Linked DNA regions of Homo sapiens: region 1 is linked to region 2. The links come from fine-mapping of genetic effects on gene expression. A gene starts in region 2. The other region holds a variant in brackets. All regions are shown on one strand. Distances are from middle to middle.

Region 1 (9,881 bases), 21 kb after region 2:
GGAATCTGGAAACCAGGCAGAGTGGGCTGGTTTAGGGTTCTGAAGAAGGGTAATCACTTAGCCCCGAGATTGCAGCCAAGCATCTAGTGGTCTTGGGGTCATGTTGGTCCATAAGAATAGCATTTGGGAAGAAAACAGAAGCAGAAAGAGCAAGGACAAACGGGTGTCTACTAGCACCTTCACATCTGTCCCACACTGCCTTTAACCACGAGCCATATACCAAAGTAATGGCTGCCGCTTGACTTCCATCTCCCAAATCTGACATGAAGTTCTATTTTGTCCAACCCTAACCTGGAACTACACAGATAAGAGGATTCTGGGATATGTAGTTCCAGCTTAGCCAGGTGACAAAACCTCACAATTTCATAATGTAGAATTAAAGGTTTGACATGGTTCTGGCCTCCCAGGATCTCTCAAAGGCCACAAAACTGGAAGCAATGTCATAGTTATATGATCTAGTGCTTTACTAGTAAGAAGGAATTCAGTTAGTTAATGATCCAGTCTTGAAGAAGTACCGTGCATTTTTGTTCCTCACTTGTTGGTGGCACTGTATGTCTTTCTGCCTTGCTTACCTTTTTTTTTTTTTTTTTTTGATACAGGGTCTCGACCTGTTCCCTGTTGCCCAGGCTGGAGTGCAGTGGTGCAATCATGACTCACTGCAACCTTTGCTTCCCAGGCTCAAGCCATCTTCCTGCCTCAGCCTCCCAAATAGCTAGGACCATAGGCACATGCCACCATGCCCAGCTAATTAAATTTTTTTTTTTTTTATAGAGACGAGATCTATGTTGCCCAGGCTGGTCTTGCACTATTGGCTTCAAGCCATCTTCCCACTTCAGCCTTCCAAAGTGCTGGGATTACAGGTGTGATGCAGGAGGTAATGGTTGTCTTGGCAGCAAAAACTAAGAAAAGTTGCATTGACTTTGAAGAGCCTGTCAGTACTGATGAAATGCAAAGTCTTTGTCGCCTCCTTTCTAATCTTGTTTGATTTGGAGAACATGCGTATGAAGGCTGAAAGAAGATTTCCAGATATAAATGGCAGGATAGATAACATTAGAGCCAGAACTGCCATGTAAATGTCAATTAGAAACAAGATTTAAGTCTCTGGACCACCCTTCTTACCCCCTGTGGCCTGTTGGTCACACTGCCCCTTCCTCGTGTTTCTGTAGCCAGGCACAGGCTAACGAGGACTCAGAGAGTGCCTGCTATGATAATTTTAGCCCCTGGAAAAAATAACAGACTTTGTGAGATTTAATGGCCACACCTGGGCCTTGTCATCACTTAGTATTCTTTCACCTTTTTGATTGTCAATTCTGATATTTCCCTCTGTGACCACAACCTCCTTGCTTTACTCCTTTCAGATTCCCTCCTATCTGTTGAACCTATTCTTCATCCTAATTGTGATTCCCTGATTTTGAACATTCTTCCTTTTCAGTCCATCAGGCCATTCTCACTTTACTTGGCTCTGAATCCAGGGTAGACTCTGGTGGTCAGCATTTCAGCAGTGAGCTTGTTAACAACCTGGGACCCTCTGTCATATTTCTTTGCCAGACCTCACATTGTATTACATTTCAGTAATTCACACCAATCGTAGTTTGTAAGCCTGAACTTTATTATCTTGCTGGGGAAAATCTCAAAGTCTGCCCATCTGAGATTCCAGCAAAGTCCTGGCATCTTTACCGCAGCTCAGCTCTCCTTTGTGTTCCTTTTGTGATGGTTTCCTATTATATTTCTTCTGATGCTTATTCTAAACCTTTGTCAGGATCTTTAGCATCTGAACTCCTTTCTACTATTTTACTGAGACAATAGAGACCAAAGAAACCTCAAGCTTTTGCCTCAAAACTTTTTAATATTTTTACTCCTTTTCTCTGTCTAACCTGAAAAAAAGTAAGGGCTCTATCTTTGGCTCTTTTTCCTCTCTATGTGTATTCTTTCCCCAAGTGACCCCAGGCAACCTGTGGCTTTAAATACTCTGTGTGTGCTGATGACTCTCTAGTGAGTATCTCCAGCTTGGACCTCCCCACTGAGCTCCAGACTTAAACATCCAGCTGCCTACTCCACTGCACTTCCACTTGGTGTCTGATAGGGACCTCACATTTAAAATGACCAGAAGACAACTCTTGCTTTCCTTGGTACAGATTTGCTTCCCTCTAATTACTTTGCTGTCTCAGTAAGTGGCATCACCCTGTATGCCAGATGCTCAAGCCAGAAGCCTAGATCATTCTTGATTGCTCTCTTCTTCATTCCCCACATTCAAAAAGTCAGTTTGTCTTTTCATTCATACACAAGTTAAGTCCTGAATCTGACTACTCCTGAGAGTCACCACCACTGTCAACCAAGGCCGGTGTTCATCAGCTTTTGCTTGGTCTACAGAAACTTCCCCCATGCTGGTGTCCTTGCTTCCAAATTGGCCCCATATAATCTGTCTTTCCCACAGCAGTCAGACTGAAATTTCTACAAAGAAAGTAGGCTCTATCGTTTTCTCGTTGATGTGCTTCCCATTTCAACCAGAATCCAGGGCCCCTGCCCCCTCATTCATTGTGATCAGTCACAGTGATCTTTTTTTTCTGTACTTTAAACACCCAAGCTTGCTCCATCACAGTGCTTTTATATTTGCTGTTCTGTGTCTGGAGCAGTTTTGCCCCAGAGCTTCAATCACTGTCTCTTCGTCATTCTGGTCTAAACTCAGACATGACCCTCTCAGAGAGGCCTTTCCTGACCACACTTCATATTGTCATATTTTAACTGAATAGCATTTGTCAGTGGGTCTACTTCATCACTGTCTCTTTCCTAGAACACAGTTTTCTTGCAGGCAGGGACTGGTGGCCATGTGTCCCCAGTGCCTAGAAGGTGCTTTGGGGGACTGACTGGCTGACTTTGCAGGATGAACCCCCTGCTTGCTGCTTCAGTGCCTTTTTCATGGTTGTGCCTTCTCTTCCCTACATCTTTGTTCCTTCTCTCCTGGCTCTTACTTTCCAGATCCCATACCCGTCATTGAAAATGCGCTTTCCTGGAGGTTGCCAGTGATTACTTAGCCATCAGTTCATTTCTCTTTTCTCAGCACCCACCTTCCTTGACTTTTCTGCATGTTTGACATTGTTGTTCATTTTTTTCAAACAAAGGCATATAGTAGGAGTCTGCTTTAGATATTGTGCAGGATGCAGATATGGGTAGGAAACAGCTCCTGCTTTAAAGGAGCTTGCAGTCTGCCAGGAGCAAGTAGATGAGTAATGTTCATAAAGAAACAGTAAGTGTTACTTCAAACCCTTTCTTGAAATTCTTGCATCCCTTGGCTGCTAGGGCATAAGCCTTTCCTGGTTTTCTTCCTAACTGGTTACTATTTCTTTTTTCTGTGCTGACTCTTTTTCTTCTGCTCATGCCTTAAACATAGGACTTTGCTGTGGTTTTGTCCCATTCCCTCTTTTCTATACAGTAATCTGTCTCCCGATGGTGTCATCGACTCCCACGTCTTCACTGCTGGGCAGATTTCCTTTTTACCCCCCACTCCCTCCGTGCATGTGACTCCACATTGATGTTAGGCTCAAATATCTTCTAGGGGTTTCCATTCCAACTGTCCGGTGGACATTTCTACTGGTCAAAATCTTACTATAAGAAAATAGATTTCACCAGTGATTAGCTTCCCTTTGGCTTCTGTCTCCCCTCACAGGTCTACCAGTTGACCCTTCCTCTGTTGTGGCTCTCAGAGCTGCTGCCTTTTGATTCCTGTCATTGCCCTTGTTTTCATTATTATTACCTCTCCCCACCATTGATAGAGGGTCCCTGAATGATCTCTGGGCCTCCATGTCTCCTCTCCAGTCTGCTCTTGATACACTGTTTTAGTCACCCTGTCTTCACCACTACCTGCCTGTGTCCCCCGTGGCCCCTTTAGGTCTTTGCTTATGCTACACCCCTTATCTCTGGTCACTTTCCTCCTTCATGTCTTCTGTTAAACCTCCCCCTCATCCAACCATTTTTCAAAGGCCAAATTCGAATATTGACACTGCATGAAGCTTTTTATGAATCCCTTTGGATGGAAATGTCCTCATTCTCTTTTGACCCCTGAGGCACCTGTTAGTGCATCTCTTTGATTATTTATATCCTTCCTTATACAGGTTGAGCATCCTTAATTCAAAAATCCAAAATTGGAAATGCTCCAGAATCTGAAACTTTTTGAGCACTGATACGTTGCTCAGAGGTCATGCTCGGAGGAAATGCTCGTTGGAGCACTTTGGATTTTGGATTTTCAGATTGGGAATCCTTAACTGGTAGGAATGCAAATATTTGAAAATCTGAAATCCCAAACACTTCTGGTCCCAAACGTTTTGAATAAAGGATATACAGCCTGTATGACAGTTTGCACTGTTCCACACCTCCTGACTCTTAGCATACCATACGTGCCTTAAAAGAAGATCCACAAGCTGACTAACCTTTCACTCTCACTTATCACCTAGCACAGGGACTTTTTGCTCAGTAGCTGTGTGTTGAATGAGTTATCTTATCTTACATTTGTCTAGTGTATCTCAGTGAGGTCTTAGCTGAACTTTTTCTTTTTTTTTTTTTTTAATGATTATAAGCACTGTTCTAGTAGAACCTTATTTGCTTCTGGATGGGGTTTTGAAGTTCTGCCATATGTGACTTCATTACACATTCTCTGCTGTCTATAGCTTGTTTAATGTGCCTTGCTGCATTTTCATGACTTAGGGACTGTCTAGATGAAAGTTGGCATGATCCTTTCCTGTCAGACCTCTCAGTGGCAGACTTGAGGAGACAAAGGTTTTTCATTTGTTGAGTCAGGTACTCCAATAAAGGCACTATAAGGTTTTAT[A/G]AGTTTGACTTTCTGTGCATTCATTTCTAGCTCATATGTGGACTGGGAACTCCATGTGGCAATCCATAGGCCCCGAGTCTCTCCTAAAAGCCTTGTAAGGACTCGGGAAGTGGGAATTAGGCACCCATTTACAAGGCATGCTGAAAACCATAACCTCTTTAGTTTCAGCATTTCAACTCACCTGTACCACTGGATTCAATAACTGCTGATACTTATCTTACAAATGGTTCAGATTGGAAAGTCAGATTGTTTGCTTCTAGGCAGCTCAGTGAAATAATAAAATTTGAGCAGAAATAGAAACAATTGCAAGAATTTTTAGCAAATATGCTATACTCTGCAGGTCTTGATTTAGAATAATGTTGATGATAACCTGAGAAATAAAATCCATTTCCCATGGATATCAGAAGGAGGTGGAAAAGCATAGATAAATGAAGTGTAGTCTTCATTGCCTTGTCTTTCTTAATGATTCCTCATGGTTGGCAATAGCACTTATTTAAATAAACATTGCAGGAGTAGTTGTTTACTTTGAAGAACTTGCCTTTTTCTACCTGTCCCCATCGATTCCACCTGATAGAAGAAAGTCGAAGGCATTTAATTACTTTCTTGAGTATTCCAGAGGTAGGGAAATGGTAATCGGGAAACAATTAACTCTTGGTTGTTAATTTTCTACTGCTGAGAAGTCAGAGCAGAGGACTTCTAAAAGTCCCTCCTGTATGATTTTGGAATAAAGTTCTCTGCACCATTTTTGAGTATAAATATGCGTGGTGTTAAAGTTGGTATCACTTAAAATAACAAAGGTAGTACATCAGAAAAATTTTTGAAGAAATTTTTAACAATCCAGTTTCTTCTATTCTCTCATCTGTCTACTTCACATTGAAAATATATAATATTTCTTCTTTCAGTGACTCATTTCTGTGTTACTTTGCTGCCTATCTTGGTTCCATTGCCCATGGAGAATATGAAATATAGGGAATTTTAAGCTGTTTCTTTTTCCTACTCAGATTAAAGACAAAAAATCAACAGAGGATGATAATATATAATGCAATTGAAGGCAAACGAAATCCGACCTATCTTTGGCTTATGCTGCACTATCAAGTTTGGGTTTGAGTCCCTCACGTTATAGCTGTTATGACCTTCAGGAGGTTATTCAACTTCTTTGATTCTCAATTTCCTCATATCTGTGATAGGGGTGGTAATAGCTACCTTATGGTTGTCTTCTGTGGATTAAGACAATTTGTGGATAGTGCCTGGCTCAGTCAGTCAGTGCATGCCATGTAAGAAACACTGTACATTATTATTCTTCCTCTTACTCGATTCTAATATTGTTGTGGAGAGAGACTGGGAGACTTGATAGTAAATCAAACTGAATACATCATGAAATAAATACTATGAGAAATGCTTATATGATTTTAGCTGAAATTATGGGGTCTTTGATTAATCAAGTATTTTTTATTCTACCCTCCCCCTCCCCCACCAATTAGCTTGTTATTCAGTCTTTCATTTTTGTGGTTACTCTAGAGATTAGAACACGTATCAGTGATCTGTTAGTGTTTACTAGTGATCCTTTTACCACTTCCAGGATAATGAAAGACCTTACAACATTTAAGCTCCAATGTATTCCACCCCTCCCCTCACTTTTTCTGCTATTGATGTCATATGTTTTAATTATGTATATATTTTGAATTCCAGAAGACATTACTAATATTGTATTTATAGTCAATATTCAGTAGGTTTACCCACATAGTTATTCTTTCTGTTGCTCACTTTGCCTTCTCACATTTCCATGATTTCAACTGGGATTATGTTCCCTCTATTTGAAGAACCCCCTTTAGTACTTATTTTTGGTGCAATTAATTCTTTTTCCCTTGTTGAGAATTGGTTGAAAGCATGTTTATGTTGCCTTCCTATTTGAGGATTTTTTTTCTCTGTATAGAATCCTAGGTTGGTGGTTACTTCCTTTCATCACTTTAAAGATGTCATTCTGTGGTCTTCTCATGAGCATCATTTCCGTTGAAAGTTAGCCATCAGTTGTATTCCTGTTCCTTTCTCTGCCTTTCAGTAGTTTTGCTATGATTTACCTAGGTGTGGTTTTATTTGTATTTATTCTGTTTATGATACATATCTTATCTTGCATCTGTGGCATGATGTCTTTTGTTGGTTTAAGAAAAATCTTAGCCATTATCTCTTCAAAAATTATGCCTAATTCTACTACAGTCTCTCCCTGTCCTTCTGGGCCTCTGTGACACATATGTTTGGCCTTTTTACTGTGTCTCATAGATTCTTGTCTGGCTTTTTTAGTTCTTTTTTATACCCTGGGCTTCAGTTTGGATAACTTTTACTGACTTTTGTTTTATTTTGTTTTGTTTTTGTGATTGTTTTGTTTTTTTTTGAGACAGGGTCTTACTGTGTTGCCCAGGCAGGAGTACAGTGGCACAGTCATGGCTCACTGCAGCCTCCATCTCCTGGGCTCAAGCAGTCCTTCCACCTCAGCCTCCTGAGTAGCTGGAACTACAGATGTGTGCCACCATGCCTGGCTAATTTTTTCTGTTGTTGTTAGAGACAGGGTCTCACTATGTTGCCCAGGCTGATCTTGAACCCCTGGGCTCAAGCAGTCCTCCTGTCTCAGCCTCCCAGTGTGCTGGGATTATAGGCGAGAACCACTGTGCCTGGCTGCTGACTTCTTCTGTGCTGCATCTAATCTGCTGCCAAACCTATTTATTGACCTCTTAATTTCGGATATTGTATTTTTTTTTTTAGTTCTAAAATTTCAATTTGATTGTTTCAATATATTTCAGTTTGGGTGAAATCCTGTTTTCTATTTCTTTAGTAAATTAATTATAGTTAGTTTACAATCTGTGTCTGATAAAACCAATATCTGGATCCCTGGAGGTCTGTTTCTATTGTCTTATTTTTTCTCTTTTGTTTTTGTTTATTTGGTTCTGTCATCTGGAATACCTGGTAAGTTTTAATTGAACACTGAAAAATTGTAGTGGCTTTGTATGATGTCATCTTCTATCTGAGAAGATTTACTTTTTTCCTAACAGGCCAGTAGAGTAAGAGAAGCTCATCTTTATCCAATGAGGAATTGAGATGCTTTGAGACTGTCTTTTAGTCTTGATGAGAGCTAGTTGCTTTTTCCGCTTTGCTCTTATTCCAAGAGCATAGCCCTTCCAGGATTGTAACTGAGAATCTGAGTGTTTACCACCTTCCTTTGTGGACTCAGAATTCTAGTTTTTGTTTCCCCGTATTGTGAAATGGTCAAAAATTTTACTTAACCTTTAGCCCCCTAGTGTTTATTTTCTGCTTAGCTTCTCAGCCACTTACCACCTCCCCATACCCTTCAATGTATCTTTCATGTCAGTTACCTTGAGGGGAAAACAATGTAGTATGTCAAGCTCACTTCTCTGCTGTTGCCTTTTTTTCGTAGGATCTTGCTCCTCAAACTCTGACCTTCTTAGTATCCTTGAACTTCAGTTGTCTTCTTGGCCCCACAAGGTGCTGGAAGCTCTGAGTTACTTACTTCTACTTGCTTTCTAGCCTGCACCACTTAAAAATAGCAAATATCTGAAGAGAAAAGGCAGTGGGTATTGTTGAGTCCACTTCAGTATCTTTCTGTGATCTTGGACCCTTGAGCCTGGCTGCCTTGATTGCTCACCACTGCATTCAGTTAGCTTTTATCTATCTTTTATGGTTTCTGTAGTGGGAGTGAGGGTGGGGGCAGGGGGTGGGGAGTGATCTGATATTAGCTACTCTATGATAGCAAAAAGCAAAAATCTAAAAGTAGAAATCTCAATTATTGGTCTTTTGAAATTTAAACTCTGCTTACCACCCCCAAATATTTGAGTCAACTTCCAATGAAATACACATACATATACGTAAACACTGCATGAAGGTGATAGTTAAAGTGCCCTTATTTTGTCTTGGGTATCAAAGGTACTCTGAGGCTGTGGTAACTGCCCCGAGAGGTAAGAGAAACCTGTGTAGTTCCTGTTTTTTTGAAAGAATGTACAATGGTCCATCAACAGGTATTTTTTTTTCTGGTATTAAATTTTAATGGAATTTTATTATGTGAATTTTTGTGTCATTGAACAACCCAGTAGTGTCCTCAATAGGACTTTTAAGGCTGATAAATGTTTTTCGTATGAAGGTTTCTTATATTGACTCCTGAAAACAAATGAAGCCATAATTCAAGATTGTTACTTAGTAGCGGCATTTTTATGGGGAACTAAACTAATACAGTTCAGGTAAAGAAGTGTTTGGGACCTTCAGTTTGAAACACTGGTAGAACTTGGAAAAATAGAGGAAAACTTTCTTTTCCTCTTTTTCCCTCAGTTATCAACTGTTACAAAAGGTTTTGACAAAAATTGGCAACATGTGGCTATGTAGATATTCTTTTTGATTTGAAAAGAGCCATATGCTCTATTTTTTCCAAGTTATATTTATTTTTAAATATCATTAGCTGTTATTTAACAATATTACAAGAAATCTGTGCTAAATACCAGATTGCTTGGTGGCAATTTGAAATTCTGTTACCAAAATTTAAGATCTTGATTTGCATGGATGAGGGGACATCCTAGTTCTGCATGCAAGACAGTGCTCAGGTTTATATCTTTTCGGATTAGAATTTGATCTTTCAAGCATCTGTTCATATCTGCTTTACTTTTCCCAGTGGAGCTATCATATAGCCAATGTTGAAGGTACTTTTGCAGGTTGAGTTGGAACATGAAGGAAGGAGTACCTAAGTGATCCTAGGGGAGTTGGGGAAGGCTTCACAGAGGAGGTGGTGCTGCAGCTGCTTCTTACAAGAGGGTGAAGAGATGGATGAGAGGGTATTCCAGGTGATGGAGGCATGAAAGCAGAGGCCATGAAGCACCAGAGAGTATGGCATTTCCAGAAAGTGAAGAGATGTTTGTTTTGTGGGATAGAAGCATCAGAGAGTGGGAGAACAGTTGGAGATGAAGCTAAAGTGGTATCCATGAGCCAGATCATGAGTGGTCTTGTATGTCTTTTATTCATTCATTCATTCATTTAACAAATATTTATTGAACAACTACTATTT
Region 2 (9,881 bases):
AACAGTTCTAAGTCATTTAAGAACACTTTCTCCACCATGTCCCACTTCAGTCTTTTAGGGCTGAAGAAAAGATGGGGAGAATTGATAGTTGGGTGGTGACGAGCAGGACCAGCCCTCAGGCAGGACCCTGCTTAGCCCATACCAAACAGATGAGGTCCCTTGCTGTTTTCAAACTTGTCACATGAGCATTCTACAGCTTCCCCACTAATCTCACCAGTATTGCAGGACTCTCACTCGTGGGGAAATAAAGGCCTCCTCTTCCCACCCCTCCCTTTCTAACTTTTAATTTCATTTTCTAATTCTATAATATAATCCTAAATTTCTTTTTGTTTAGTAATCTCTGTTTAACTTTAACTGGGAAAATATACATCTGGACACAGAACAAGGAAGACTGTGAGTGAAAATGATTAGTGGAATGAAACGGTGCCATGGAATATACTCCTTCCCCTGAGCCCCTGCTGAAGTAGGTAGGGGTCAGGGTCATTTGGAGACTGTGTGCGTGTACAGGCTGCCAGAGGTGGCAGGGCCAACAACTCCAAGTCTAGGTGAGTCTTAGAACAATCAGCAATTTCATTCACTGGGAACCTTTTAACATTTTCATTCACAAAGTTAAATAACATGATGATGTTTTTGCCTGATCTCAGCAGGGAAAACTTGTTTGGCGTAACAGTATGAGGACTCTTGTGAGGTTTTAGGGGTATCACCTGCAGAAAGACATGTGTGACCAAAAGACCATAATGTCGGACTGCTGTGACCAGTGCCCCTTGGGGGCACTATGATTGGAGAAAAGAAACCCATGTCGGTACTCTCCTTGGGGGTGGGCGTGAATCAATTAGAATTGCTGGAGAGTGAGTCTTCCTGCCCCAGGCAAGCCTATAGACTAAGATAGGAGAACAACTGGTTGGGGCAAAAGCCTTACCTGTATAGAAGGTTACTCACTCTGGTAAATAAATATCTTTCATAGTAAAAGCATCATCAGATTCCAGAGTCATGAATTAACAAATTGTGCCAGTCTGCTGTGTTTCTTCCTTTATCCATTGGTAGTCAGGAAGGTGCAAAGGGTGTGGTGGTTATAACCAACAGTCTAGACTTATTAATTTATGCTTATTTTTTGCTACAAAAGTGGCTCTTTGGTTAACTCCCATGACATTTAACTGCCAGCCACCAGCAGGCTACCCACTTCAGTCCTCATTCTACCTGCCTTACCTAGACAATTTTATTTATTCTCATCATTTCAATGGTTAACCACTGTTATTTCCATGATTGTAAGATACACCATTAATTTAATAATACCTGGGGGTGGGTGAGGTGAGAAGAATCTCTATCATATTAAATACACAACATCTATTGTAAGCTTATCCTTACACTCCACAGCTAAAGACCTACCAATTTTTCAAGACTCGTTGCATAGTCATCCCCTCTGTGAAGCTTTCTCTGACAGCCTCCTCCTGGACTGGCCGCTCCCTTGTGGTGTCACAACTCTACCTTGCATATGCAATCACAATGCACAAAATGTCGACTCCTCAAGGGCAAGAACTGTCTGCTTCATCCCTGTACCCCCAGGATCTAGCCCAGTGTCTGCCATTAATTCACTCTATAAATATACATTGGGACCTACCATGTGCTAGGCACAGTCCCTGACACACATTGTTTATTAAACAAAAGAATTTTTAAAACATCTACTCTGCCATAAGGTGGGATACAAGGTGAAAATGTGACAGCCTCTTAGGCCCATGCATTATTAGACAGAGATGGGGGTAGTGTATACATTTTGCTAAACTGAATGTGACCAAGTGCCACAATGTGTGGTTCAAACATTAAGCGTTCTGGGTGGTTAAGAAAAGGAAAGATGGAGGATGAGCTGAAATCTGAGCTTCTGAAGGTGCCAGGCCTCACATTTCTCTGAAGCTCCACTACCTTCCAAGGCCTAACATTAGGCTTGAATTCAAGGTTGATTGAATGAAATTGGGAAACTTCCCTGCGAGATTCTAGGGAAGAATTGGGATGGGGAAGAGAAAGGAATTACAGTGTGTATGAACAGAACCAGGAAAGGCTTGGCGGCAGAAATAAATTTTAAAAAAATTATTGTGTAAAATGTACATAGCACAAAATTTACCATTTTAACCTTAAAAATTTTTTTTTAGAGACGGTGTCTCACAATGTTGCCCGAGTGGTCTCAAACTTCTAGCCTCAAATAAAAAAAAAAAAGAAAGAAAAAAGAAAAAGAAGAAAAAGTGCCAGCCCAGTGGCTCAGACCTGTAATCCCAGTCTTTGGGGAGGCCGAGGCGGGAGAATCGCTTGAGCCCAGGAGCTCGAGACCCGCCTGGCCAACATAGGGAGACTCCAGTGTCTACAAAAAATAAAAACAATTAGCGAGAGTGTGGTGGCACACATCTGTGGTTCCAGCTACTTGAGAGGTGGAGGTGGGAGGATTGCTTGAGCCTGGGAGGTCAAGGCAGCAGTGATCCCTGATCGCACCACTGCACTCCGGCCTGGGTGACAGATCCTCATTTTGAGACCCTGTCTCAAAAATGAAAGAAAGAAAGAAGACAAAACAAATAAAAACTCCTGGCCTCAAGCAACACCATCCCTGCCCCCCGCCTCCCCCTGCCCCCCCAACCTCAGCCTTCTGAGTAGCTAGCATTACAAGTACCAGTTACCAGGCCTGGCAATTTTAAACATTTCTAAGTGTACCATTCAGTGGCATTAAGTACAATAACGTTGCACCACCAGGAATGAATTTTTAAGTCTCTTTCCAAAGATACCTGGCTAATCACACATTTGATAGTGGGGAAATAAGAAACATTTGTTGGTTGAAAGACGGATGCATGAGAGTAAAAGCAGTGTTCTTCCCCAGTGTGGGCAGTTTCCGCATAAGCATCTGCGATCCGTTTTGCATGTGAATGAAAGCCCAGTGACGGGCAGTGGGCACCAGTGCTGCTCCTTGCGTGTTTGAATCATGCTTGCTAAGTTTCAAGCAAGGAATGCTCCATTTCTCCCAACCAAGTCGGGCCTTTTGTATTCAAATCAAAAGCACAAAACTCTATTGTAGGGGGAAAAATGAGTCTTTATTGGCAATCAGTGGTGTCCACTTAGAGCAATAAATATTAAGTCTTAAGAGTACATTCTATATGAAGTACTATAGCTATTAATACACTTGGGTTTTGTTTGTTTTTTAAATGGGTGTCTTTGTGGGGTGCTGTTCTAATCAGTGCCACAGGCGCCGAGGAGAGGGAGGGAGCTGGGTAAGGAAGGAGACAGGCCCACCCTAGCCACCGGGGAGTGGGCAGAGTCAGGAGAGCGGGGTTCTGATTTTGCCCCTTCCCTGTGAATCCTTGGGCACCTCACCGAAACACTTAAGGCCTCTGTATGGTAGAGGTTGGAATCCGTGGCCTTTAAAAGTCCTTTCAGCTCCTTCGCTCCTATCTGCATAATTTTTGGCATAGGCCAAGCGGCTGGTTGGTGGGGTGTTTAGCTCAGGACGAGAGGCCGAACGAGCGGGGAGTTGGCTGAGGATAGACTAGACACGCGTGGGTGACTCCAGCGTGATGGAACGCGGGGTGTCCCGGGATAGGGCTAAAGCGATGGGATTTCCAGACGAGTCTTTCCCAGGCCAACTTTTAAAGGTCGGAGGAAAGTTTCTCGTGGGGTGGGGGCCCAGAGGGGATGGCAGGGTGGGCTCCGACGCCTCCTCGCCTTTAAGCGGGTGGCCCCGGCTCTTCCTCCGTTACCTGGAGCGGGGAGGGGCTTGGGAAAGTTTGTGTTTGTTGCTGGCAAAGCGCCGGATGGGAGGCGCGGGCGGGCGCTGCGGTTCTTCCCTTCTGCTTTCGGGAAGCGGTCGGGGCTGCACACTCGGATCGGCGGGGCCGGCTCCCGGGCCCGGCCGGCTGGAGGAGGGAGGGAAGGAGGCGGGAGGGAGCGAGCGGAGCCAGGGGCGCACGTACGCCCCAGCGCTGGGATTTATCGGCTCGCGAGGAGAGCGGAGCAGGCGCGCGGCCCAGGCGGAGGAGCGCCGACTCTGGAGCAGCCGGAGCTGGAAGAGGAGGAGGAGGAGAGGCGGCGGGGAAGGAGGAGGAGGGGGAGAGTCGCTCCCGCCGGGCGAGCATGGGGCGCCTGGCCTCGAGGCCGCTGCTGCTGGCGCTCCTGTCGTTGGGTGAGTGTGCGCGGGGCTCAGCGGGGCACACGGGGACTGGCGAGGCCCTGGAGGGCTCGGCGGGGCGCGGCTGCAGCGCGCGGCCTGGGGCGCCGAGGGTGCCCGGGCTGCTCCCGGGAAACCCGGCCGGGGTGCGCGGGTTGTTCGGCCCGGCGGGGAGCGGCCGCGGGGCCGCCCGGAGCCTGGCGCGAATCCGCTCGGGCCCCGCGCGCGGGGTGCAAGTGGCCGCTCCGCCAGGCCGAGCCTCGCCCCCAACATGTGCCGGGGGGAGTGGCCCGGGGCCGTCTTTCCCCCAGGTCTCCCTACCTGTTGGCCGCCGGGAGCCCGGCTCACCTTGAACTCCCGGCCCGGAAGGTGCTGCGGTCCCGGCCCGGGTCCTCGGCTCGAGAGCGGAAATGTGAGCCTTTGATATGCCCCGCCATAGCCGCCGCCGGCCGGGTCGCTCTTCACCCAACCCGCGCGGAGTTGCCTTTCCAGGGAAGCGAGAGAATCCTCCAACTTCCTTCCACGAAGGTCACAGGGTGGCCCGGAGCGTTACAATGGAAATCGGCGGGCGAGTCCTGCCGTCATTTTCGTCGTGGCTAGATCTTCTGCCTCAGTCTTTTCTTTTAGCTTTTCTTGAAGCTGCCTAGCTGCGTATTTATACACAAAGACCTAAAAGCCTGGCTTCTCCAACTTTTTCTACCTGTTACTTTCCCTCCCTTACTATCCCCTCGTCTTCCACCCTCCGGAAACCCTGGGTGCCCCGTGAGGTTTTGGCCCAGCGCCCTCCCCCCACCCAAGGAATCTTTTGTGGGTTTTTTCCCTCTCCATTTTCCATTCACTCCATACACAGACACCATCTTCACGTAGATCCACATGGTGATCCTAGCCAGCCACGGAAATATGTTTATTAAGTGCCCACCATGGTACCCCAGGGCCGACTCTTAAATGTTTTGATATTCTTGGATCCTTGTTGTCAGTGTCAACCAGGACAAGATGATTCCTGTGACCTGGCCTGGGGTTCTCTTCCAAGCCCCTAGAGAAGGCGGCTCTGAGTCTTTCACAGAGCGCATGATGTGCGGTGTCCGTGCCATTCAGGTCCCAGCTGCACACAGGGCAAATGATTACTCTGCACTTATGGTCAGAGGGTTCCAGAGGAGGCCTTCTATAGCTACTCCCCTGCTGGGGACACCGGGGCCCACACTGCTGTAACCCCCATGACTCCTGCTGCTGATGAACCAGCCTTGCTGGCTGCTGTGTTTTCTTCCTTCACCTTGAAGGGATTTTCTGAACTGACTCCCTCAGAGAGCTCGTCCAGCCACATTGCTTCAGCTTCAGCCCATGTGCAGAAAGCTTCCAGATCTTCCACTTAGTTTTATGGCATCTTTTCTATAGTCCCTGATCCTAGTGCTTTATTTTTATTTTTGAAACAAAGCCTCAGTCTTTCACCCAGTCTGGAGTGCAATGGCACAACCACAGCTCACTGAAGCCTCAAACTCCTGGGCTCAAGTCATTCTCCCACCTCAGTCTCCTGAAGTGCTGGAATTACAGGCATGCTCCACCACACCCGGTGGTAGTGCTTTTAATCTTTACTTTTCACTCTGGGACCCTTGTAAGTTGTATGTTAGTGGCGCACTGCTGTTATAGTCCACACACATTAATTGACTTTATGTGTCTGGGTCAAGCAGGGCCATGGCCTAGGTTTGCACAGATGGTGCACTGTACAACTTCGGGAGCTGCTGTTCACTTTGTAGTCTGTGTGAATAACTCCCCCTAGAGCTGTGCAGTTCTCTGAACAACCTGGGTACCAGTTATGAGGGTGGGATGAGGTAGAACTTTGAAAACAATGCCCTTGAGTAATAATGAAGGGAGAAGAGGGGAGGGGGCAAAGAGAGACTGACAAAAACAAAATAGAAGTGGGGAAAGCACAGCTTGGGGAAATCTTGATTGTACTCCAGCATATCCTGTCCTGGCTGGATGCCTCCTATGAATTACACAGGGAATTTCTGTGGTGTCACCAGCCAGTACCTTTTCACCTAACAGTTCTCTGAACCATTGATGACCCTCCTGATAACTCTGCTGTCACAGAATCTCACTCGGTGTGGCTTCAGCCTGACCTCTGGGAAGGTCTCGCTGTGTTACACTGCTCTGGCACTGTACTGATCCCTGAAATGTAATATGTTGATAAACAAGATCATCTTTCCTCCTGGGGTGTAACCTGGGTATAATCGTGGTATCGCTGCTCTTTTTGACCTCCATATTCACGTAGTCTCTCAATTCTTGGCTCTCCCCGTACCACAGACTCCAGCTTCTTTCTTTCCTTCCTGTTTCTACGGCTACTGTCTTAGCCCAGGTCCTGATTGTTTCCCACACAGTTGGTGTCTTCCTGGTTGATTATTTCCTCCAGCCTCCCTTTTAAGCTCATCCTTTTCCTAAATGATCATTTTTGGGGCTCCCACCTGTTCTCACTGTGTCCTTATGAGTTTCCTCCAAGGAGATGTTGCCCCTTGTGTGTCCCTCCCCTCTGGTCTTCTCTGGCTCAGACACTTCGTTCCAACTAACCTGTTTGCTCTCCTTTATGTAGACTATATTAAACCTTCTGGCCCCTTCTACTTCTCACCTCTTGCCTGCGTATTAATATTTCCTTTTTCCCTTGAAACTCACTTTCTCCATGAAGCCTTCCTAAGCCTACCTACCATGATCACACCAGAACCCACCCAGCCACATAGAGCAGGTTTCACATCCATTGCCTATGTCTGACCTGTCTTGCCCATCCACTCAATGTGGCATTTCTTGAGTGGCCACTCTGTGTGCAACTGTGTGTTCAATACTGGGAGTCCCAGACAAATGACAAAGACACAGCATCTCCCTGAGCGGCTGGTGGGTGTGAGTAGACAGAGAATAAAATAGCTAACCACAGGACTGAATGAAATACCTGACATGGAAACCAAGTGTGGGAAACAAGGAAGGGGATGATTAATTTTGACTTGGGGGTTGGGGCTGGTTTTGCTGAAGAAGTGACATTTGAGTTGAGCCTTGAGGATAATTAGAATTTTGAAAGAAAGGATAGAAGAGCATTCTGGGCTCTGGGGAAAAGCCTAAAGTGTGGATGAGTGAAAGTACATGGCTCATTGAGAAATGGCACGTAAGTTCCCTGTAGCTGGAGCTGGGAGGAGGAGGAAATAATGGGGGTGCAATTATTTGGGGGAGGAGGAAATAATGGGGGAGGAAAGGTGGGTTTGGGATAGATCCTGTAGGTTTTGCATGCTGTGCTAAGGAGTCTGGACTGGGAGGGGTAGATTTGTTGGTGCTCTGGGTGCTGCCAGCCAGTCTGTGCCCTGTCATCAGAGCATATATTTCCTTCATTGTATGTAATTGTTCCCTACTCTGATTGTTTCCCCTGGGGGCAGGGGCCACGTTGATTTTGTTCACTACAATGTCCCTATTACGAATAGGATATATAACTCATACTGGTTGTTTGATACATATTGGCTGACTGAATACTTACATATGTCATTTTATCTGTGGGAATGGGTAGCCATTAAAAGTTTGTAGGGCGAGATTAACAGGACAGGGTAATGTGTTGAGGAGGATAAACCCTCAACTAGTGCAACATAAATTGGAGAGTAGAAGGCATGGAGATTGTAGGGTGGGATTAACACATTCTCTTTATGTCTTTATTTTTGCAAATCTATTGAGATACTTTTTTAAGTGTCAAAAGCATTACATCTGTATTTTAAAATTCAAATGATATAAAAGGACTTTGTATTAATCAGGTAGGCTAAACTGCTCTAACAAACTCAAAGCATAGTGGTTCAGACAATAGATGTGTCTTATATAACAATGCGAGGGAGATGCTTCAGAGGAAAGGGTTGGGTGGGAACCCTGCTTTACACAGTCATTCTGGCTCCCCAGCTGGTGGCAGTTCTGCTGTCTTCAACTCACAGTTTCTAAGATCACTTTGGTAGTCGTCATCACCATTCCAGCCCCTACAAAGGAGGAAAGAGCGTAGAGTAGAATATTTGGAGTCTTTGTGGGTCAGACTTGAAAGTGGCACACATCATTTCTGCACACGTTCTATTGGAGAGACTTTGGGCCCATGCCACACTAGCTGTAAGGAAAGCTGGGAAGCCATGTGCCAGCTACTATGGAAGAAGGGAAAGACAGATTTTGAGGGAACAGCTAACAGTCTCTGTGTTACTTACAAAGGATATAAGGTCAAAAGAAAAATCTGGGCTAAACAGGTCAGCTCATGCCTGCAATCCCAGCACTTTGGGAGGCCAAGGTGGGAGGATTGCTTGAGATCAGGAGATCGAGACCGGCCTGTGCAACATAGTGAGACCCCCATCTCTACTAAAAAATAAGAAAAGTTAGCCGGGTATGGTGGCATGTGCCTGTGGTTCCAGCTACTTGGGAGGCTGAGTGGGGAGGATCACTTGAGTCTGGGAGGTCAAGGCTGTAGGGGACCGTGATCGCACCACTGCACTCCAGCTTGGGTAACAAAGCGAGACCCTGTCTCAAAAAAAAAAAAGGAAAAAAATGTGTCCACCCTCCTGCCCAGGCACAGCCACTCCTGCCTAACGTGTGTGTGTCTCTGCATACTGAGTATTTTGTTTTTTTTTCCTCATAGCTTCTGTACAAGGCTCTGCACCTAATAGGCACAGACTAATAATAGCTACTATTTCTCGATTGCATATCAAGCGTCAGGCTCTGACGTACATTCTGGTATTTATTCCTCACAACAATACTTTGAGAAAGTCACTATTTTGTCTTTATTACAGATAAGGAAACTGATGCCCAGAAAAGTTAGTTAACTTGTCTAGAGACATACAGATTCTTCCTAGCAGACCTAGGATCTGATCTCAGGACTCCATTCTGTCTCTGCTAAGGAAAAGTTTACTAATGTTCGCTAAACCTTATGCTGCGTATTGCTTGAGATTAGCTTAGGTGAAGAAAGATGATAGTGGTTTGAAAGTGAAAGTGCATTTAAAAATAGGAGGATCCAGGGTTAGTGCAGCCCAGGTACACTTCCTGAAGGGAAGGGCAGTGCCAGCATGCACCTCAGAGGTGTGGCATCTCTGCAACCCTAGCAGGTGGCCATGCCGGCTCTGAGGACGGGCCGAAATGCAACTGCCTCTGGAAAGCACTGAAGGAGGAGGAAGGCCAGTGGGAGGAACCCTAGTGAATCCATCCAGCTTTAACAGTCTTTGAAGTGCTGTGGCCTTCAGAGATTCCTTGGCACTTATTTTAGCCTTGTTAACAGAATTCCTGTATCTGCCAAGCTGATTAATGCCTGCCCTGGCTATAATTATTCTTATTAGCCTGCTGAATAGGAACTCTAGTTGTCAGTGATCATTCCTTACAAGGCAGCAGGCTAGTCGGCATTTATGTGGCTGTTTTGTTTTAGCGATGAGCTGCTGAGCTGATTTTCCCCCCGTAGATTGAATGTACATTTTCATATTGGCACTGCGTCTGGCAGTTAAATAAGGTGTGTGCTTGTCTGTCGATGTGTGTCTGCGTCTCACTTTATCAAATGAAGTTGGAAGGATGCTGTCCAGGCAGTTCATAGCTGTTTTGTTTAATTGCATTGGTTTCTTAAAGGCAGGGTTGCAAGGGTCATTTGACTCTGCTTTGGGAAAATAACTTGAACTGGCAAAAATTCTTCATAATTTATCTTCTGGAAAAGGTGAAGTGCTGCAGTTGGCACAGTCAGTGGTTTTTTCGATCTTGGACTATTTCTCCCCAC

Evidence for each region. PIP is the estimated chance that this variant, and not a neighbour inherited with it, causes the effect.
Region 1: its variant is fine-mapped to the expression of PTGFRN in whole blood (TOPMed, PIP above 0.99).

Annotation. Positions count from the first base shown.
Region 1 is chr1:116,926,953-116,936,833 of GRCh38, forward strand. The region is part of intron 1 of PTGFRN (prostaglandin F2 receptor inhibitor); the gene reads left to right. Among named protein-coding and RNA genes, the nearest start is that of PTGFRN, 22 kb to the left of the region's middle. The variant A/G (reference allele first, on the strand shown) is at 4,823.
Region 2 is chr1:116,906,100-116,915,980 of GRCh38, forward strand. It overlaps PTGFRN (prostaglandin F2 receptor inhibitor), which reads left to right and starts at 3,817. Exons shown (of 9, transcript NM_020440.4): 1 at 3,817-4,153. The coding sequence starts at 4,105.